Regions from separate parts of the Homo sapiens genome. Here region 2 is linked to region 1. The links come from fine-mapping of genetic effects on plasma protein levels. A gene starts in region 1. The other region holds a variant in brackets. All regions are shown on one strand. Distances are between the middles of the regions.

Region 1 (11,405 bases):
AGAGAATCCTGATGACATTGATCAGGATGAAAGAAGTATGAGGCAAGGGAGTAAAATCAAATGCCGAGTAAAAAGGGGGAACAACGTTGACCAAGGAATTTGAAGTTAATTTAAGAGCTGTTATGAACAATACAAAAAAGAAAATTATAGGCCCATTTCACTTATGAATATATAGATAGAAAAACACTAAACAAAATATTTGCTGACTGAATTCAGCAGAGTTAAAATAATGACACCACATCACCATCAGGAAGCGTTTATCCCGGAAAAACATTCCAGAAAATCCACCAGTGTAATTCACTACATCATTAGATCCAAAGGAAAATCTATGATGTCAATTGATGTGGAAAAATTTTTTGATAAGTTCCTTTTGTATTTATGATGCTTACAAATTTGAAAATTCTGGGAAAATGGAGAAATTAATAGAAAGGTATAAAATGTCAAAAGATGGGCCCAAGAAGAAATAGAGAATTTCAGTAGGTCAATCAGTATTACAGAAACTGTAATGGTGTCAAAGCCCTCCCACTCCCCTAAAAATCAGCCTAGATGTTCTCATGGGTAAGTACTGCTGAACCTTTTTTTTTTTTTTTTTTTTTTTGAGACAAGGTCTCATTCTGTCGCCCAGGCTAGGGTGTAGTGGCCCAATCCTGGCTCACTGCAACCTCTGCTTCCCAAGGCTCAGGTATCCTCCTGCCTCAGCCCCTCACGTAGCTGGAACTACAGGCATGCACCACCACACCCAGCTAATTTTTGTATTTTTAGTAGAGATGGGGTTTTGCTATGTTGCCCAGGCTGGTCTTAAACTCCTGGACTCAAACGATCCACCTATCTAGGCCTCCCAAAGTGCTGGGATTACAGGTGTGAGCCACCGCGCCCAGCCTGCAGAAACTTTTTAGAAACAATTAATTCGTATCATATGCAAGTTGCTTAAAAAGAAAACAAAAGAAAAAAAAACCAACCTATCTTATTTTAAAAGTGTTGTCTTGATTATAAAAGCCAGATAAGACAATACCACAAAGGAAAGTATAGGTCCATTTCACTTATGAATATGGATAGGAAAACACTAAACAAAATCTTTCCTGACTGAGTCTAGCAGAGTTAAAATAATGATACTACATCACCATCAGGAAGGGTTTATCCCAGAAAAGTATCCACATCTGAAAATCCACCAGTGTAACTCACTACATCATTCAATCAAAAGGAAAAATCCAACGATGTCAGCTGATGCAGAAAAAGGTTTTGATAAGGTCTTTATGTATTTATGATTTTTAAAAATTCTTAGCAAACTAGGAGCATGAGAGAAGTTCCTTAATTTAGTAGGGATTTTTAATACCAAAAACCTACAGAAAATATTGCTAGTGGAGAAAAGTTTTATATAATACATGCCTTTTAAGGTGAGGAACAAGGCAAGAATGCTAGTTATTACTGCTACTGTTTAATACATAGAGCTGGAGAGCTGGGCTGAGCTACAAGGAAAGAAAATAAGAGGTGTAATTATTGGAAGGGAAGAGATAAAACTGTCATTGTTTGTAGATGGTGTGATCATCTACCTTGAAAAACCAACCAAATAAACTGACAAAATATTAGAACAAATAAGAGAGTTCAGCAAGGTTGCCAGATACACAGTCAGCAACAAAAATCAATGACGCTTTTACATCAGCAATAACTAACCAGAAAAACACAACATAATTTTGACTTAAATAGAAAGGTTTTAAAATAATATATACATATAAATATATTATATATAAAATGCATATACATATATATATACACACATGCACACATTTTAAAAGCACAGCTGGCTATGGTGGCTCACGCCTGTAATCCCAGCACTTTGGGAGGCCGAGGTGGGAGGACTGCTTAAGCTCAGGAGTTCAAGACCAGCCTGGGCAACATATTGCCAAAATTTTTTAAAAAAACATTTAGCCGGGCATGGTGGCACACACCTGTAGTCCCAGCTACTAAGGGGGCTAAGGTGGGAGAACTGCTTGATTCCAGGAGGTGGAGGCTGCAGTGAGCCGTAATTGCGCCACTGCACTCGAGCCTAGGCAACAGAGCGAGATTCTGTCTCAAAATAAATAAATAAATAAAGGTATATATATACATAAGTATAAAAATAGCGTATATATATAAAACATTATATCTCTCTCTACACACCACACACACACACACACACACACACACACACACATTATTATGTTTCTAATCACATGAATGAAATCTACATGTAGGGTGCATTTGGCAGCTCTGGGTGTCATCAGGGATCTGAGTTCCTTTATTTCTCCTTCGCCCTCTTCTGCACACGAAGTCCATCCTCAGGGTACCCTCATGGTCCAAGATGGCTGCAGAACTCCACCATCACGTCCGTATTACTGACTGGAAGCAGGAGGCAGCAATCAGTGGTGGTGGAGTCACCAAAGGGAAGCCCTTCCTTTTAAGGAGCCTTTCCAGAATCGGCACACAACACTCCTGCTTGTATCTCCGTGCTGGAACCTATCCCGTGGCCCCGCCTCCTGCAAAGCTGAGTGCGTCGCCACCCCAAACAAAAAAATCAGTGTTTGGTGACTGAGGGAGGAGGGAAGAAGGATATTGGAATGGGCATTGATCAGGCTCTGTCACAGATCTCAGTCTCCAAAACACGAAACTGGGGCACTGAGGTCCAGAGAAGTGAGGGAATTTACACACAGCCACAAAGCAAATTAGCAGCGGAGTTGGGATTTTCACCTGACTGTTGACCTTCCCATGGTACAGGTGTCCCCTCACACCCTGGTACATCCAGCCACTACAGCACTGCCCCTCCTCACTTCCAGCCCTGCTGGGGTCAGGATCTGTTTTGTATTTCTCTGTCCCCACTACCTAATGTCACACCTGTGAGCTCCACCTCCCCAGCGTCGGCTTGGGACTTGGCATGGGGTAGAGGCCGTAAGCGGGAAAGCGGGCACACACCTCGGGAGCTGACAAACTGCAAAGGGCTTTCAACCGCAGATATTTACTTGTGGCTTCCATATGCTGTACCTTGATGGTGATGTTTCGTAAGTTTCACTTTTCAGATGCATTTTTTTTTTTTTTTTTTTTTTGAGATGGAGTCTCACTCTGTGGCCCAGGCTGGAGTACAGTGGCGCGATCTGGGCTCACCGCATCCTCCGCCTCCCGGTTTCAAGCAATTCTCCTGCCTCAGCCTCCTGAGTAGCTGAGATTACAGATACGGGCCACCACGCCCAGCTAATTTTTGTATTTTTAGTAGAGACAAGGTTTTGCCATGTTGTCCAGGCTGGTCACGAACTCCTGACCTCAAGTGATCTGCCTGCCTCGGCCTCCCAAAGTGCTGGGATGACAGGCGTGAGCCACCGCGCACGGCCAGATGCATTTCTTAGACGCTAAAAATGTTCAGCCTGGCCCAGGCCTGGAAGAACATGCAGGCCGCTTTTATTTTTATTTTTTTTTAACAGATGGAGAAACTGAGACCCAGAGAAGCAAAAGTGTGTGTCCCAGATGCCAAGGTACCTGCGGCAAAGAATATTACCTAGATGTCCCTCACTCTGGTTCTCCTTCATTGATACACATGGAATGATGGTATTTCCCCGCCTTCCTTGCAGTTAAGTTGGGGCCATGTGGCTAGCTCTGACTAATAAGATGTGAGTAGAAGTGATGATGTGGCTTCTCCATCCCTCTTTTTTCCTGCCAAGGTGACCTTGGAGGCCACCGGTCTAGAACAGGGATTCACAAACTGTAATGTGCATGCAAATCACCTGGGGGTCTTACTAAAATGCAGATCCTGATAGTGGGGTCTGGGAGTCTGCATTTCCAACATGCAACCAGCTGATGCTGATGCCATCGGTCCTTGGACCACACACTTGAGTAGGGAGGAGCTACAGGATGTGCCTGGCCCACTTTGGACCATTCACGAGCAAGAAATTAGCTTCACTGGGTTAAGCCACTGAGATGTGGGCATTAGTTTGTGATCTCAGCACAGTCTTACGGAAATTGTCATTTAGCCATCAACCAACATTGACTGAGTTCCTACCATGAACTCCTGTGTGACCTGGGTGCCTCATTCTGAATGAGGTGCTCACTCTTGGGGTTGTGCAAGTGCAAGGTCAGCAGCTGAGAATGAGAGCCTCCCTAAATGTTATACCCGACATGCCTCTGTCACCTCACCCTGGTCCCAGCCCTGTAAGTCGGTAGCGGGAGCCGGGATTTGAAGCTCGGACCTGTTGACTTCTGAGCTTGTGCTTCCTCCTGGGAAAGCAAAGGACAGCCACACTCACCCTGGGCCCTTGTGTGGGGGCTGCGGCTGCAGCCAAAAGACTCATGGGTTCCCTGGATGCTTATATCCCTCTGGTGCCAAAATTGGACAGTTTGAAGGGAGGGCTGAACCGCAGCAAACCAATCAGCAAAGTGGCAGCTCCCACCGCTCCTGCCACACCCACTCATGCTGAACTGTGTGTGCAAGCTCCATCCCTCACACTTCATCACCAAACACCCTTGATGATGACGCCTGCTTCCTGATCTGGCCAGGCCCCAGGGCCCCTACTGCCCACACTTTCCCATCCTCAGTTATCAGACAGAAAAAGTTCCAAGAAAAATCCATGCTCTGACTCAGAGGGCCCTAGGTGGGCATAGCACTCTGCCTCGTTCTTGCCACCTCCCTGCCCCGTATGGCCCTGTCTTCTTCACCATACGTGGCACCCATGGCCCACCTCACCTCCTCATTGTCAAGGTCTCCTTGCTCTGCTATGGACATGGCTGGGACCAGCGTGTCTCCCTCCAACTCTCTTCCTCACACCTCCTCATTTCTCCCGTCTTCCTTCTTGCCTCAGAGATAGAAGTGGCTTAAAACTGTTCCTTTCAGGAACAACTAATCAGTGGCCACAGAGGTCAGAATAGCGGGTACCTGGAGGACAGAGGGTAGAGTCTTGGAAGGGGCATAAGGAAACTTCTGGAAGTGTAGCTTGACCTGGGTGATTATCACATGGGTATATACAGTCATGTATATACATATGTCAAGAGTCAAAATTAGCCAAACATGCTGCCTCATGCCACCAGCTACTCAGAAGGTTGAAGAGGGAGGATCCCTTGAACCCAGGAGGCTGAGGCTGCAGTGAGCCATGTTCATGCCATTGCACTCTAGCCTGGGAGACAGAGTGAGACTCTGTCTCAAAAAAAAGAAAGAAAGAAAGGAAAGAAAGAAAGAAAGAAAGAAAGAAAGAAAGAAAGAAAGAAAGAAAGAAAGAAAGAAAGAAAGAAAGAGTTGTCAAGCTCTACACTTCATATTAGTGCACTTTAAGCACTTTTCTGTATATACATTACCTCTCAACTTAAAAAACATTATCACAGAGAGCTCTATGGACAGTAGCAGAAATAAACAGCATCAAAAACTGAAACTTGGGTGTTGGAGTCATATGAACCCGCACTGAAAACCTGGCTCTGTTTTCTAGCTGTGTAGCTTTAGGCAAGTTACTTAACCTTTCTGAACCTCACTTTTTTCAATTGAGATGTGGATCATGAGGATTAGAAATGCTGCTTTTTATAAACAGTGCTTAGCACAAGGGCTGGATCTTGCTGGGTGCTATACACAATTGCTTTTATTTTTATTAATATCAGTGGCCTAGGGAGGACAGGAAAGTCGGAGTGACCTTTCCTGGATGCAGGCAATAACGGGTGGGGGGCCTACAGAATTTAAAGATAAAATAAAACTGATGAGAAGTCAGTCTGCTTTTATGATCACTGTGCAATGGCAGATCTAAATAATTTCAGTGGTAAAATACTTTGTCCTGAAAATACCCTTTATTGATCTAAGTTCTAACAATTGGTGCAGTAACTGTTGGGGTTTAATAATGTATATGTAAAGCTTCAAATCAGCACATTTTTATTCTTATCCTTTAATAAACATATTCTACATGGAAGTCAACTTGACTTGGAGAACTTTAAGAATCCTATAGTTGCCCCCAGAGCATGTGGTCTCAGGAACACACATCAGTTGAGAGTAAGCTCCTCACAACTCTGGAATCTTCCAAGCTTGCTTTGAATGCATTCCTGTCTCCACCGTCCAGCATTCATATTTCTGCATTTATTTTTATTATTATTTTGTGTGTGTGACAGAGTCTCTCTCTGTCGCCCAGGCTGGAGTGCAGCGGCAAGATGTCGGTTCACTGCCACCTCCACCTCCCGGGTTCAAGCAATTCTCCTGCCTCAGCCTCCTGAGTACTTGGGACTATAGGTGTGCACCCACCACGTCCGGCTAATTTTTGTATTTTTTTTTTTAGTAGGGACGGGTTTCACCATGTTGGCCAGGCTGGCCTTGAACTCCTGATCTCAGGTGGTTCTCCCACTTTGGCCTCCCAAATTACAGACGTGAGCCACCGGCCCAGCTGTATTTCTGTGTTTAAACAGTAGAGTGAAATCAACTATGAACGCAGAATGATGGGAAAGATGACGATAAGGGTATTTCAATTTTGTCATTTTACGAAACTACTTGGAGTTTTGATTTGTATTTACAGTTTTTAAAAGAGTAAAACAGTGTGAACTGTGAATGGTAATGATTTTGTTTGGTAAGTGCAAATTTTAATTCATACATGAAAAATATTTGTTTTGTTTCATGATTATTACTGAAAATAATTTTGTACTATGAAGGAAGAGGGGTGTTAAAAATGATCCACTGTGGATGTAAATTATTCTAGGCATGCTTCTGACTAAAACATTAGCATTTCCACAAGAATCCCAAAAAATAAAACAAAATTTAAAAGATCCCTTCTGTTTCTTTTCCTCCAAGTTTCCAGACCCCCATCTCCACCCTGGCCACCTCTTCCTGCCATAAATAATCAAATCCCACACTTTCATCTTCACCTTCCGTTTCCATTGCCTCTTCCGATGGGACAGCACCCGTGGGGAATCTCCTCCATGCTCACAATCCCCGTCTTGCCACTATATCAAGTCACACTTCTTCCTCACCAATCGCCCATTCTGGAACCTCTGCTATCCAGCTAGATCACTTTGAGGTTTGGACAACTACTGGTGGAGGTAATGGGGGCCCCAGACAGCCCTTGACATCACCTCTTTTATCTTTGCCAAATTCTACAAACAAAGCCCATGTCTTTCTGTCCCCCGCCCCCATGGCTGGCACATAGTAGATGTCCCCAAATCTTGGTGATGTGAACTTGTGTGTCTCACCCTTCACAGACATCACCATTTCCCGTTGCACAGAAGGCTCCACTCATACCAGGCGCTTTGGCTCCCAGAATAAGCAGGCTATCATGCTATGTCCGACATCTAGGCGTTGGTACGTACTGTTCCCTTGGCCTGGAACATTCTGCCCTCTCTCACCCTCTCTTTTCTTGGCTTTCTGAAATGGCACCTCCATCAGAAAGTGTCCCTCACTCTTGGTCTGAGCAAGGGACCTTGCCTGGTATTCCTGAACTTCCACCTGTTTTCCCTCTGTTTTCTCCCTCTCTGGGCCTTGTCCTCAGGTCAGTGTTGTGCCTCCAGCTCCTGCAGAGGCGAACTCAGAGGCGGCCGAATGAAACCAAATGGATTTGGCTTGACCCCATCATCTAGCGGTGCCCAGCAAGCGCTGGCACATAGTAGGTCCAGCCTGCCCGGACTCGCCCACCACGGGCCCCCTTCCAGAGCCGGGAGGCAGGCCAAGGGAGGCCCCTTATTGCCAAGAGCAAACAGGCCGCCCAGGGAAGTTTTGCTCTGGGTCACACCCACCTCTGGGTGGCTGCCAATCTGCCTGCCAGAAACCGCAGGCTGGGCCGCGGCTACCCAGAGTCAGGGCCACGGAGCTTAGGAGACCTTGGGTCAGCTCTGCAAAGGGGTTGTTTACTGAATGCTTCTGGTATCTGCAGCCCCGCTGGGGTTCGGACAGGGGGTCTGGAATAGGGCTTCACAACTACAGCAGGGCTAGGACCCTCTTGGGCTGGAAGGAGCTGGAGAGGCCTCTGCAAGCTGTCACAGGCTCTTGGTGCTGGCACTGGCTCAGGCTTTCACACACACACACGCGCACACACACACACACACACACACGGACAGGCACCCCCTTGGTGGCCTTCACAGTTTCACCTTCAGGTAAATGGGCTCATCCTTTGAGCCATGAGGATGGGAAGCGAAGCAAGGAATGAAAAAGCTAGTGTGTTTGTGTGTGTGTGTGTGTGTGTGTGTGTGTGTGAGCGCGCGCGCGCGCGCGCGTGTGTACTCGTGCGTGTGCCTGTGTGTGCCTGGGAGTGACCTCACAGCTGCCGGAACATAAAGACTCACAGGTCCGCCTCCCAGGCTCAAAGCTGGCTCTGCAGGGGACATGAGAGGCACACCGAAGACCCACCTCCTGGCCTTCTCCCTCCTCTGCCTCCTCTCAAAGGTAAGGAGGCCCGGGCCCTGGAATGCACTGCTGACTATTTGGGTGTGGAGGGGGTGGGGATGTAAAATCGCAGCCAAGGACCCCCTTGGCAGAATTCCTCCAGGGCCCCACATTGGGCACAGTCTGGCCCCCATGCCTAAGCAGGGCTTCTCTCCCTGGAACTCAGAGCTGCCTCCGGCCAGCCCTGCTGTGTGACCTCAGATATGTGTCTTGCCTTCTCTGGGCCTCAGCATCTTCCCAGGTGAAGGGTATACAGTTTGTGAGGCCTCTGTGAAGACCATTCATGATCATTCATCAAACTTACCAGGCAAATTGAAGAGGACTTTAATGTATCCTCATTATGAATGGGGGCACTCAAGACATGACATGCTTGGCCTAACTCTGAGCCAGCATTTGGATGGATGCCTAGCTGATTGGAAGGTTCATTCTGCAAGGGCATCAATGCTGTTGGACTCTTAGGCAGTGAGTGACCCGCCCGCCCTAGCTAGAGGGGAACAGGAGACACCTCTGTGGAGTAATGGCCTTATCCCTGAATGCTGCATGGGACATTCACCAAAGAGCCTGTGGGACATCTACCTTGTCTAACATGCACAACAATCCCATAAGGAATTTTCAGTTAAGTGAGGCTCAGAAAGGGTAAGCAACTTGCAACCCCAGTTTTCAGTCAAGTGAGGCTCAGAAAGGGTAAGCAACTTGCCCAAAGCCACACAGCAAAGAAAGGTCAGAGCAATAGAGGAGAGCCATGGTGGAGCCCAGAATGACATGGATGTAGGGGGAGAAGCACTCCAGTCTGTGCCTCCCCAAGCCCAAACTGGACCAAGGCCACAGCTGCTAAGCCTTGTCATCCCCTCGGCAAATGCTGAGTTCCCAGAGCCATGGAATCGGCCCCACCACAAGCCACGATCTCACTGTATTTTCACGCTCCTTTGAGGAGCACGGGCAGGAGCTTCTCTCCCTCAGGCTCCAAGTCTTCGTGCCTGGGAAGCCTGAGAACCACGCTGGCATCCTGTCCTGCTGTTTGTTCTTCCAAAGGGGATGGGTAGGGCATGATGCCAGTGTGGGTGGCTTGGGTAGTTGGAATAGGGGACTTGGGGCTCTAGGAGGGAGAAGGGGCCCAGGATTATACGAGAACAAAGTAAAGCTGTCCTAGACTTGCCATTAGGGTGAGACTTACGGGACCATTCTTCCCTGGTCCCAGGAAGCAGGGACTGCACAGAAACACAGGGACTTAGTCACCACAACATGGAAAGCCACAGCAACCCTCAGAGGGAGAACTGTAAGTCTTCCAGGCTGGCCGTTGGCTCCGGGGCTCCTGGCTGTGGACCGGGGCAGGAGGCAGACACCTGGACACAAGCAAAATCACATTGATCAAGGACTGGCCAGAACCTCATTTAATCTCCATCATCACTCAGAAACAGGTTGTCTCTACTCCAGTTTACAGAGGAGAAAACTGAGCTTCACCTCCACCTTCCAAAGCCGTTTGTCCACATGTTCAGTCACGTAGCAAGTCACTGGCAGAACTTGAATCTCAACTCTTGCCCAAAAAACTCCATGCCCAGTACTCCTGCCCCAGATATCATGAGCCTTGCCCCCCACCACCAGATATCACAGCAAGGCCCTGGGGAAACTGAGGCACAATGGGACAACTTGAGTTTGGGCCTTGGATGTCAACTTGAACTTGGATGTCAATCCTGATTCTGTCTCTTACTGGCTGTGTTACTACACGGTTTGAGCTCCAGTTTTCTCATCTTTAAAATGGGCATAATGATGGCACCTCACATTGGAGGGGTAAATGAGACAACAGCACTTGGCACATGACATACATATGGTATCACATGAGATAATTGTACACTAGAATAGTTGATATCATTAATAGCCTCTCCTGGGTATCGGGGCCTACAGAGTCCTGCCCCCTGACAAGCATGGCCAGTAGAGGGGTCCACAGTGGGAGCCAAGGTGCACAGCTGCTGGTCTATTTCCTGGCACTCCTGTTTTCAGGTGGGAGGGACCTGAGAGTCATTTCTGACAGTCCTCCCTCCATTGCCCACAAGCCAAGGGAGCTGAACCTCTGACTTAGAAGGGAACCCAAAAGCCTAGACCGTTTCTATGTGAATCACCTGTGGATTTATGAAAATGCAGATTCGGGCTGGGCGTGGTGGCTCATGCCTGTAATCCCAGCACTTTGGGAGGCCGAGGTGGGTGGATCATGAGGTCAGGAGTTTGAGACCAGCCTGGCCAGCATGGTGAAACCCCGTCTCTACTAAAAATACAAAAAATTAGCTGGGCATGGTGGCATGCACCTGTAATCCTAGCTACTTGGGAGGCTGAGGCCTCCCAAGAATTGCTTGAACCTGGGAGGCGAAGGTTGCAGTGAGTCGAGATCGTGCCACTGCACTCCAGCCTAGGTGACAGAGCAAGACTCCATCTCAAAAAAGAAAAAAAAAAAAAAGAAAGAAAAAGAAAAGAAAATGCAGATTCGGATTTATTATATAAAAATTCAGCTTCGGATTTATAGAGGGGCTCCAGATGCTGCCTCTCTGACAAGCTCCTAGATGACGCTGCTGCTGCTAGTTCAGACCACACCTTGAGGGGCGAGGCTAGGCCATCGTCTCTAGAATCTGAACAGCCTGCAGCGATGGGATCCACTCCCTTGTGAGGCAGCCAGACACCTAGCTCCGTGTGTCCATCTGCTACTCAGTGCTGTCTCAGTGGGGGCTGTGATCGCCTCCTACTTTGTGGCCCCCACCAGAGGCTGGTCAGCCAGTTTGCAATGGCTCCTAGTGGCCGGCGTGGGAGTTGCCGGGAACTGAAAGCAGGTTTGCAGGATTGTGGGTAGTGGGGGCACTGGGCGGGGCAGAGGGTGAGGCAGAGCAAAGGGGTCATTGCCTGCTTTGGGGCTGCACAGGAGATATGAGGTCATTAATTCCATCATTATAAACTGCAAGCCTCCATTCCTCTAGATGAAACCCTCATCCCCTAAGGATCCTACTAAACTCAAACTTGGCCCCCCAAAGATGGGGCCACTGGAAGCATCTTGAATTATACTTCC
Region 2 (11,491 bases), 17 kb before region 1:
CAGGGTCAAGAGTGAGGGAGCCCTGCAGCAATGGCCATCTGTGGGACATCTGTGACACTGTCAGCTGGAAGCCAGCAGGATGGCGGCAGCTCAAGTGAGACCCTTCCCCTCCCCTTACTATCTCCACAGCCCCCACTTGTGGGGGAGGGGAGGAGGTCCAGAGAAGGAGCCCCCCAAACTGCCTCCCCAGGACAGGCCCCAGCTGGGCAAGGGGAGAAGGTTTAAACCTAGATCCAATTGGGAGTTTGGATTAATAGCTTGACTGGACATTTTAAATTTGAGTTGAGACCATGTTTGTGACTTAAAGTGATGGTAGAACTGTCTTATGTAAGAATTGGGGCCAGGCACACTTTGGGAGTCCGAGACAGGTGGATCACTTGAGGTCAGGAGTTCGAGACCAGCCTGGCCAACATGGCAAAACCTGCCTCTACTAAAAATACAAAAATTATCCAGGCATGGTGGTGTGTGCCTGTAGTCCCAGCTACTTGGGAGGCTGGGGCAGAAGAATCGCTTGAACCTGGGAGGCAGAGGTTGCAACGAGCAGAGGTTGCCCCACTGTACTCCAGCCTGGATGACAAAGTGAGTGAGACTTCGTCTCAAAAAAAAGAGTTGGTCCCATTCTCCAGTGGGCTAGCCTTGGCTTGTCTCATGGTGGAGGAGGCTGGCGGGGGTGGGTCAGGTTCAGGGGGGTGGGGGAAGGTGGGGAGCAGAGGGTGGGAGAGAGAGAGAGAGAGAGACTGCAAGGACTGCATTCTTTTTGAGGCTCAGGCTCAGAACTAGCACAAGGTCACTTCCACCACATTCAATGGACCAAAGAGAGTCCCAAAGCCAACCCACATTGGAGAGAACGAAGGCAAAGTCACATTGCAAAGGGGTGTGGAAACAGATAGTGGTGCAGAATCTGGCCCGCTTTCATAATCAGTCCACTGGAAGACTTTGTTTTCCTCGCAAGGAAGGTTGGAAATGTAGACTCACTGCTTGTCCAGGCAGAAGAGGAAATGAGTTCAGGGAAGAGCTTGCCAGTCCCCAGCCTTTGCCCAGCCCCCTACTCATGCACATTTAGGCACACACCTACTGTGTGCTCAGCCCAGCAGGGTAGATTAGAGAGAGCGAGGGCGTCGGGATAGAGGGCCTGATTCCCCAACCGGGTGACTATCACTTCCGGTCTCATGACCTCCATGTTCTCATCTGTAAAATGGGGATAAACATCCTCATCATCTCTCCTGCCATTGGTATGGTGGTGACAAAAAACACTTTATCGATTCATGAAAGTCATCAGACAAAGTGGATGATGCTGTCCCTGCCCTCAAAGGTGTTAAATAAAGAAGATGAGAATTCAATACATGTCCCCAGCTCTGGTGAGACTGTAGGGGTTGTGTTAACAAGGGAGGGAGAGACATCAGAGAGCTGTTGGCAGGGGAGAGCCCTGTGGCCAAGCCTTGACAGATGGTGAACAGAATCTGGAAAGACAGAGGGCATGGGGCATGGCAGGGTGTGGAAACAGCACACTTGCAAAAGTGTGGAGGCTGGACACATGTGATATAAGGCAGGGTCCCCTACCCCATGATTCAAAGCAGAAATTCGCAAAGACTTTGATGTAGGCTGGGCTGGGAGTTGACTACACTTGCATGCCTGTTGCTTGGCAGGATGGCTTTCAAAAAAGAAAAAAATATAATAATGAAAGATTGAAAACAGATTATTGGGGAGAAAAGTATCCCAGGCGCTAGACGGCTGTCTCTGCAGCCTCTGGCTCCTGTCCCACCCATTCCCCGGCCCTGACGCAAGGCTGGCTGGAAGAAGGTGTTCTCGAGATTGTTCAGGCTGAGGGCCTGACTGGCAGGAGACTGAAGCCTACCCCATTCCTGCCTGGGTGCCAAGCTCTGCATGAGGTTTAAATATACCCACAGCCTGACACTATGCCCTAGATCATGCTAAATGTTTCCATACTCCTTGAATTCTCTTCTCAAGGTTCATTTATTGTCCCCATTTTTCAGATCAGTAAACTGAGGCCCAGAGAGGTTAACTGGTTTGCCCACAGTCACACAGCCAGACAAGTTTGAGTATGTCTGATTCTATTGCCTTATTCCAGGTTTGGGATACAGGCAGAGTAGGGAGAGGTTTAGGATGGTAAAGAAGAATGTTCCAGGAGGAACAGAGTTAGTGTAAGGGCAGTCTAATCTAGAGTCAGAATTTGGAGCTGTTTGTTACAGCAGCATGACCTAGCCTATCCTGACTGATACAAATCATGGTAAACTAATTTATATGTCCTGAAAAATATTAGAACTTAGCATCTACCTCTTAGGAGAGCTTTTTTTTTTTTTTTTAACTTTTACATTTTGGCAAAACACACCGAACATAAAATTTACCATCTAAGCAATTTTAAATGTACAATGCATGGCTTTAAGTACATTCACATTATTGAGTTTCTATCACCATCCTTCCACAGAACTCGTCATCTTGCAAAACTGAAATTCTAAACCCATTAAGGAAACTTCTCATTTCCCCCTCCCCAGCCCCTGGCAATTCCACTTTCTGTCTCTATGAATTGGACTACTTTTGACAGATACCTCCTATAAATGGAATCACACAGTATGCATCTTTCTGTGACTGATTTATTTCACTTAGCATAATGTCCTCAAGCTTCATCCCTGTTGTAGCATGTATCAGAATTGCCTTCCTTTTTTAAGGCTGAAAATCTTCCATTGTGTGGATACACTATATTTTGCTTATCCACTAATCTATCAATGGACACTTGAGTGCCTTTCACCTTTTGGCTATTGTGAATAATCTGCTATGAACATGGACACACGAATATCAGAGGCAGCCTTTTCAAGCAAAGGGTTTTTGGGGAAAAAGCCACTGTCCAGGACTCTAGGCTTGGCCACTAACTTGCTGTGTAGCTGTGGGCACATTGCTTCCTGCATCGTGTATGGCAATTCTAACTCTCTCCACCTTCACTGCCTACTCACAGCCGTGTGCTGGGGACCAGATTAGACCATGGACTATGAAACTCTCAGCAAAGAAAAAGCCACGAGGGGCTGTTATTGTTATTACTCAGTGGGGTCAGGGCAGTGGCTTCCCAAAGGCATGAGTCACTCATGGTGGAATTCCAGACATCAGGAGGGCCGTTCTGGGCAGCAGAGCCCAGATTCCAGACAGAGCAGTGACCCTGACCCGGAGCCCCTAGGGGAGCCACACCCTTTCTCTTTGGCCACTGGCTGCTGTGAGGAAGGAGTCAGTGAATGTCATAATCATATGGGCACTTAGGGTGAGAGCCTCCAGTCCCACTGCCTCACGTAACTATTTAAGGAGGCTCAGAAAGGGTCATGCACTTGCCCAGAGTCACACAGCTAGACAGTGGTGGAAGCTGGCCTGGGTCAGATTTGGACATCTACAGAAGCCCTTCTCCTCCCTGCTCGCACCCCTCTTAGCCCCAGCATGTGAGGAAGGCAGCTGTCTCCCTGAGCTCCGTCCTTCTATGCCTTGGGTTTAGCCATGTTGACTGCTGTAACAAATAACTCCAAAACCTCAGTGGCTTTGCATTATAAATGCTTGGTTCTTTCTCACATCAAACTGCAATAAGTCTTGACAGGAGGGCTCTGTTTTCTGCAGGTCATATAGGGATTGAGACTTTTCCTATTTGTGGCTTTCCTCATTCTCAGAGTCCTCTCCATTCAGCAGGCAGATGGCAGAAAGATTGTGGGTAGAAGATTTTTATAAGCCAGACCTGAAATCAGTACAATTATTTTTGCTTACATCCCATTGGCCAGAGCTCAGTCACATGACCACATCTAACTGCAAAGAAGGCTGGGAAATGTATCCCACATGTGTGCCCAGGAAGAAGAAGATGGCTATTGGTGAGCCTTGGTAGTCTTCCACAAGAACATGACCCAGTTCTGGCCAATAAAACATAAAGAAAGTATGCTGGGACAGGAGGTTTGAGAAGGGCTGGCCTCAATTATTATATAAAAAGGGGTGTGGGGAAGGTCCCCTATTCTTTCCCTTTAAGTGGTTGCATGAGGATGCGATGTCTGGAACTTTGGCAGCCATGTTGAGAGCATGACGGGCCAAGCCTCAGGGCTACAGCCAATATACTGAGGGTGCTGAAGCCAAAATGCGGGTCCTAGATGACATCACTGAACCTCTGAATGAACCAAAACTGGAGCCACGTAACCTCCAGATTTCTTGACTGCGAAGGCACCTATTATTGAATTCA[G/A]GAGTAATAGGGTATTCTATTACTTGCAGCCTAAAACATCCTAGCTGATTGACACTCAGGTGCAAATGCTGAAAACAGCTAAGAGGACAAGGTTAAGCCATGCCAGCTGTTACAACGAATAACTCCAAAACCTCAGTGGCTTTGCACTACAAATACTTGGTTCCCTTGAAACCCCTCCTCTGCTTGAAGTTAGGTAGAGCCAAGTAACATAGCTTTGGCCTACTCTGGATGTTGTGCTTTTTTGGGGAAGTTGGGGACAGAGCAGCAGTTCAAGCACAAAATGACCTGGCTGCTTTGTGCCAGGTCCTTTATACACACAGTGTATACACGGGAGCAAAATGCCTGGACTCAAATCTTGAGTCTGCCACCTCACCAGCCATGTGACCTTGGGCAAAGTCAATCAACCTCACTGAGCCCTAGTTTCCCCATTGAAAACATTGGGGTGATTATAAATATTCTACCCACAGAGTAAAGGATTAAATGTCCAATTCAGATAAAGAACTTGGCACATTATCTGTAAATAAACACTTAAAAGATTCTGACCAGAGCCTGGTGGGATGTGAGTAATATCAACCCCACCTTAGAGATGGGGAGTCTAGGGTTCAAGGAAATGAAGTCCAAGGACATATAAATAATAAGAGACAGAGCCTGGATTTTAATACAGACCTAATTGAACACCTGCTATGTGCCAGGCATTGTGTGAGGTGTTTAGATATATTATCCCATTGAACATACTAGCAATCCTGCATGGGAGGTATTATTATTATCATTATTGTTATTCCTATTGGACAAATGAGAAAGCCAAAACTCAGAGAAGTGAAAAGACTTGCCTACAGGCCAGGTCAAGATGCAGTACTTGAACCTAGGCTGAGTCCAAGCCTTTATTCTTTCCACCATGTATAAGCCTCCCTAACAGAAGCCCACCAGACTATTATAGTGGAATTGTAGGCATCAGAGGAGTAATACATTTGGCTCCCATGGCTATTCAGGGTTCCCTGAAGTCATCCCCAAAAGCTGGCTGCCAGTCCAGCCTGTCACCAAGGTTGTCCTGGTGATGGCTTTACCCTCACTCCTCCAGTAGAATAACTGGGCCCTGGAGTGGATGGTCCTGAGGGAGGAAGTTTGGCTCACTTGATAAAGCAGAACTTTCAAACACTTTGAGCTCATCCATGATGGAATAGGCTGCCTTGGGATGCGATGAGTTCTGTGGTCCTGGGAGGATACAAGCAGAGAAAGTCTGGTGGCCACCTGCAAGGAAGATTATTAAGACAGTTACTGCATAGAAAGTGAAATTAGATTCAAAGACCTTTCAGGTTTGAAATCTGTGGTTGCAAGATTCTCAGGTCCCATTTTCTCAGATTCCAGTCTAAGATTACATGATACTCAAAATCCAGGAATCTAAGGCTGCACGAGTTTTCTCCTTGGATTTTTTGTTCCCTATTTAGGCAGTTAGACTGCAGAACATCTACTGACTCAGGAAACAGATGTGTTAGTAAAAGCAGAGAATACATTTCTGGGTTTCAAAAACACCCCTTCCTCCCAGGAAAGAACATTCCTAAGAGACTTGGGCATCTTGAACACCTAATGAATCTGAAAGAGGCTCTCACTTTCTGTGACTGTCTTTAGGGACTGTCCACAAATACTCTGTTTCTTTTCCTTTTAGGGTGCCTTAGTCTGTTCAGGCTGCTACAGCAAAACATCTTAGACTGGGTAATTTATAAACAACAGAAATTCATTGCTCACAGTTCTGGAGGTTGGGAAATTCAAGATCAAGGCTCCAGCAGACTCAGTGTCTGGTGGGAGCCTGTTTCTTATAGATGGTGACTTCTGTGTGTCCTCACATGGCAGAAGGGACAGATGGGCTCCCTCAAGCCTCTTTTACAAGAACACTAATCCCATTCATGGGTGGAGCCCTCCTGACCTAATCAACTTCCAAAGGCCCCACCTCTTAAGGCTATCACTGTGGGGATTAGGTCTCAACATCTGAACTTTGGGGAACACATTCAGACCACAGCACAGGCCCATAGTAGGATTTCCACTTGAACTCCCTCCTCTGCTTGAAGTTAGGTACAGCCAAGTAACAAGCTTTGGCCAATGAAATGTGTGCAGAAGTGAAGTGTGCCACTTCCTGGGGGAGACTTTAGGAGCCAGTCTGTGGCTTGATGCTTTCTCTTGCCCTCTGCTGTGCAACAGTTGAAATGGTGGTTGTTCTATCAGCTGGGATCCAGGAGCAAGGAGACACAGAGCAGCGCAGCAGCTGCCCAGCAGGGGACGTGCATCAGGAGCCACTGAGAAACAGGACTTGAGCGTTGCTGTTACTGTAGCAGAACTCACCCTACCCTGACTGATGCACAGCTCTCCCCTCCCCTCCCTCCTTCCTCCCATCTAAGAAGGCTGGGAAGGAGGTCAGAGAAAAAGCTATGAGTGAGCATATTTTGGATTTTGTTGGTCAGTGGGCCCCAGAGAGCTTTGAAGAATTCAGAAGCAGAGAGCAGGGAGGATCTCAAGAGATAAAATGGCCAAGAGGGCCAGAGACAACCTCACGCCTAGATACAATTGGGGAAAAAAAATGAATGGAGCTGGGAAAGTGATGGGGTTGGGGAAAAAAATCCCAATTGAATAAGATGAATTTTCTGCCCACATATGGAATGGAGCATTGAAATGAGAATGAATTTAAAATAGATTACATTTCCAGCCCATCTGAATTTCAGACTGAGAATATCTGCTGCACATAATTCAAGATCCCACAGTCTCAAGAGGCTTGGGTCCTGGGCTTTGACAATGACTCTTTTCCTGGGCAGAAGGTTGTACATGGACACTGGGAGCACCTAGGCCTGGAAGCTGGGAGAACTAGGCTCTCCTGTCTGATGTCACTTTCCCTGTCACTTTCCCAGGGAGGCCTTCCCTGACTGCCTGACTTAAAAGGAACTTCCTCTACCACCCTGGCCATTCTCTATTCCTCTTCTTAACATCAATTGACACACCACAAGTTTTCATTTTTTTTTTTTTTTTTTCTTGAGATGGAGTCTCACTCTGTCACCCAGGCTGCACCCAGGCTGGAGTGCAGTGGCACGATCTCAGCTCACTGCAACCTCCACCTCCCAGGTTAAAGCGATTCTCCTGCCTCAGCCTCCCGAATAGCTGGGACTACAGGCACGTGCCACCACGTCCAGCTATACTGATGTGTTTATTGTCTATTTCCCCACTTGACTGTAAGTTTCAAAATGGCAGATATTCCTCTCTCTCTCTCTCCCTCTTTTTTCTTTTCCCTTTTATTTATAAAAAACTTCAAACATACAGAAAACCTATCATGAAGACCCATTTACCGCTTACCCATCATCTAGATTTCCAACTGTTAACATTTTACTGTATTTGCATCATGTTTTTTGGTGCTGGCATTTTCTGAAGTATATAATATTCTTCACTATATTTCCTTTTAAAAAATTGAAGATGGCCGGGCGCGGTGTCTCACGCCTATAATCCCAGCACTTTGGGAGGCGGAGGTGGGCGGATCACGAGATCAGGAGATCAAGACCATTCTGGCTAACATGGTGAAACCCTGTCTCTACTAAAAATACAAAAAATTAGCCGGGCGTGGTGGCGGGTGCCTGTAGTCCCAGCTACTTGGGAGGCTGAGGCAGGAGAATGGCATGAACCCGGGAGGTAGAGCCTGCGGTGAGCCGAGATGGTGCCACTGCATTCCAGCCTGGGCGACAGAGCGAGACTCCATCTCAAAAAAAAAAAAAAAAAATGAAGGTAAGGAGTTTTGTCTGTTGTATTCACTGCCATATTACTCACTGCCTGGAAGTTGGTAGGCCTTCAGCAAATAGTTGCTGAGTGAGTAGAAGGCGTTAAATCCTCATGACAACCCTGTGCGGTAGGTGTTATTATCCCCCATTTTACAGAAGAGGAAACTAAGGCACAGAGAGGAAAAGTAACTTCCCCAAGGCCACATGGTTGGCAGGTGATGAAAGGGGGATTTGAGCTCAGGCAGGCTGAGTTCAGAGCCCATGCATTTAGCGCACAATTGCTCTCTGCGGGCAATGGCCATTCATCTCCAACTGGGATGTTTATTCATCCTCTTTAGATACCATCTACAGAGGAGACCCAGAGGAAGAAGAGGGGCTCACAGGCTGGCCAAAAGCAGGTGATCTTCCTCTGGGGACCTGATGCTCTCACAAAGCCTGGGGCCTTCTGTCCTGCCCTGGGGTGGAGACAGAAGACTCCTTCCCAGACGAGTGACCTTTAGGGTTTGTTATGAATAGAGATTCCTTCTGGGGAACGTGATGGCTGATGCTGGGAACCCGGGTCCCCAGATTTAACCCCTAGGAATGTGGAGAGGAATCTCCAGACCTCCACCCAGGAGGCCAGCTCTCCCAGCCACCCAGGCCAGCCAGAAGAGGGTGGTTCTAAGCAGCTCTTCCAGTTATTGGACCACTGGGAGGTGGACTGGAACCTTCCATGTCCAGGCTGGGAGGCAGCTCCTCAGAGTAAAAATAACTCTAGGCTTCAAAATCCTGGGGTCTGCCTCTTCCTCCCCAGCTATGTGACATTCACTGGACAGGTGCCTCATGTGGGGGGACTTTGGTTTTCACATCAATCTAATGGGACTAAATATTATACCAACCTCTCAGCAGGGCTGGGACTAGGGTGAAGCCAGCCAGGTGCTCAAGGCATAACATTTAGGGAGGTGCTTGTTCTGAGGCGCCAACCCTGCACTTGCTCAGGCCCCGGGGTGAGGGCCTCGGTAGATTTGCACCCTGGTCACCTTGCTGCCTCAACCTGGCCCCAGCCCTGCCTCCCAGGGTTGTCGTGGGAAGGAAATGAGATATTGTATACAAAGCATGTTAGCACAGCATGTAGCATGCCCTTAGTGCTCACTTGTGGGGAAAATTCTGTTATTGTTCTTTTTTTTTTTTTTTTTTTTTTTTTTTTTGAGAGAGAGTCTCGCTGTGTCACCCAGGCTGGAGTGCAGTAGCACGATCTTGGCTCACTGCAACTTCTGCCTTCCGGATTCAAGTGATTCCCCTGCCTCAGCCTCCTGAGTAGCTGGATTGCAGGTGTGCACCATCATGCCTGGCTAATTTTTTTTTTTTTTTTGAGACGGAGTCTCGCTCTGTCGCCCAGGCTGGACTGCAGTGGTGTGATCTCGGCTCACTGCAAACTCCGCCTCCCGGGTTCACGCCATTCTCCTGCCTCAGCCTCCTGAGTAGCTGGGACTACAGGTGCCCACCACCACGCCTGGCTAATTTTTTTGTATTTTTAGTAGAGACAGGGTTTCACCGTGTTAGCCAGGATGGTCTCGATCTCCTGACCCCGTGATCCGCCCGCCTCGGCCTCCTAAAGTGCTGGGATTACAGGCGTGAGCCACCGCACCTGGCCAATTTTTGTATTTTTAGTAGAGACGGGGTTTCGCCATGTTGGCCAGGCTGATCTAGAACTCCTAATTTCAAGTAATCCACCTGCCTAGGCCTCCCAAAGTGCTGGGCTAGGATTACAGGCGTGAACCACCGCACCCAGCCTGTTCCTATTATTTTTATTGACTGCCTTTCTGAGGTTGGCTGGGCCTGTTTCCCAGCAGTGGCCCTGCCTTGGACCTCTTGCCATGGCCTTCGTCTCTCCCTCCACTTGTACATATTATACCCTTTTTATTATTTATCCCCTTGTAGCATGGTTTGATTCCCATTATTTACTGGTTCCTTGTCCCATGTCTCCTCCTCTGTGTCGACAGCCTGGAAACAATGATTGCTAATATTTACCAAGTGCTCACCATGTGCCAAGCCCTGGGCTAAGCATTTACATGCTGGATTTCATCTCATCTTTACAATGATCCTATGAGGTAGGGACTATGATTATACCCATTTTTCAAATGAGGAAATGGAGGCACTTAAAAATTGAGTAACTTGCCCAAGGATGCATTGTTAGAAAAGGATGGAGCTGAGGGTAGAATCAAGATGGCTTAATCCCTAAAACCCAAGGGATGGAACCCAGAACACTGCCTCTTCCACTCTTCACCAGCTTCTGCCCTGCAGGGTACACGCAGATGGCTCCAAGCAGGGGCCCCATTGCTCACTGGGGGAAACTGGCCTCCCTGAGCTAAGTCAGGTCCTGGGCAGAGGGACAGATGCTCTCTGTGCATCTCTAGGCCACAGCAGGGCGTTTCCAAGTCCTTCCCAGACCAGACGGCGGCTTCTGCTGTAGGCTATAGTAATAACAACAGCGTTGAGCACTCACACTGTACCAGAGCAGGGGTGGCGCCGCGCTGCACACCTGCCGCCCAGGGTCTCCACAGTCCTCACGCTGCCCTTGCATTGATTATTGTCTTTATGTGACCAGTGTGGTAGCTCAGGTGTCAAGACCTCAAGGCACCCAGCCAGGGTCGCATCTCACGTCTATGGCAGATCCAAGATCTGAACTTGGACTTGTCTGAATCCTGGATAAGCTGGGGGGTGAAGCTGGCTGCTGAGGATCCTGTGTGCCCCTCAGCCCTGTTCCCACCACCTCTGTGCCTCCTCCCTGCTGGCAGCCACTGTGGCCACAATGGGGTTAACCCCAGAGGAAGGCATTGAAGGCGCTGGGGCTGGGGTGGGAAGGAAGGCATATTTCGGGGCTCCAAGGACTTGAAGCCTAGCTGCTCCATGCCCAGGCTCTGGGACCCCCCAATACATGCACACATTGTTTAAAATGAAGTGGAACTCCAGGCAGGCAAGTTTTGATTTAGGGGAGACAGCTCCTCCATGGTAATGATACTGAGCCTTGTTATTTGAGCAAATAGGTTTTCTCCCAGCCTCTCACTCCTTTCTTTGTAATTCATCTTCCATCCTGGCCACATGCAGGCCCTGCTTGGAACTCTCTGGGGACTCCTACCCCACAGGATAGTCTAAAACCCTGCCCCGGTATTCAAGGCTGTTTGCAGATGTTCCTCAACCCCACCACCTGTTGCTCCCAAAATTCACACACCCCAGACCTGCACACCACAGTTGTTGCTATTCCACACACAGGTCGCTGGGAGCAGCGCACGGCCCAGCCCCGCCTTTCTGCAAGTGGATCCCTCTGCCTGGAAAGTCCTCCCTCCCCTCCTCTGGATCCTCCTGGGTCAGGCTGGGTGCTCCTCTGAACTCCCAGGCTGAGGGTTGCTGTGTAATTTGATACTACATTGACATTGCAGGAAGATCATGTATGGCTGAGTAGCTAAAAATGCAGGCTTTGAACTTGGATGTGGGTTCAGCCTCAGCTGTATCTCCCGCCAGCTGTGGGACATTGGGCTGGCGTCTC

Alleles and levels. Alleles are on the strand shown, and positions count from the first base shown. The strength of an association depends on the size of the effect and on how common the allele is.
As copies of A replace G in region 2, the plasma level of the protein whose gene starts at base 8,275 in region 1 goes down (moderate association).

The links. A credible set is the group of variants that fine-mapping cannot tell apart. PIP is the chance, under the fine-mapping model, that this variant and not a neighbour inherited with it causes the effect. The UK Biobank Pharma Proteomics Project read protein levels with antibody pairs (Olink). The fine-mapping took linkage between variants from a reference panel, not from the people measured, so its PIPs are less certain.
Region 2: its variant is the best candidate, but not a certain one, in a credible set for the plasma level of the CCN5 protein (UK Biobank, PIP 0.88).

The regions. Positions count from the first base shown.
Region 1 is chr20:44,707,095-44,718,499 of GRCh38, forward strand. It overlaps CCN5 (cellular communication network factor 5), which reads left to right and starts at 8,275. Exons shown (of 4, transcript NM_003881.4): 1 at 8,275-8,356. The coding sequence starts at 8,297. KCNK15-AS1 (KCNK15 and WISP2 antisense RNA 1) reads right to left here. Exons shown (of 5, transcript NR_132377.1): 4 at 9,531-9,699; 5 at 4,768-4,894. LOC124904911 (a long non-coding RNA gene) reads right to left here and starts at 7,680. Exons shown (of 2, transcript XR_007067598.1): 1 at 6,847-7,680; 2 at 1,309-2,376. RefSeq lists a silencer at 7,574-7,868.
Region 2 is chr20:44,690,044-44,701,534 of GRCh38, forward strand. No RefSeq gene overlaps it. Among named protein-coding and RNA genes, the nearest start is that of CCN5, 20 kb to the right of the region's middle. RefSeq lists a silencer at 6,427-6,476 and an enhancer at 7,167-7,216. The variant G/A (reference allele first, on the strand shown) is at 4,217.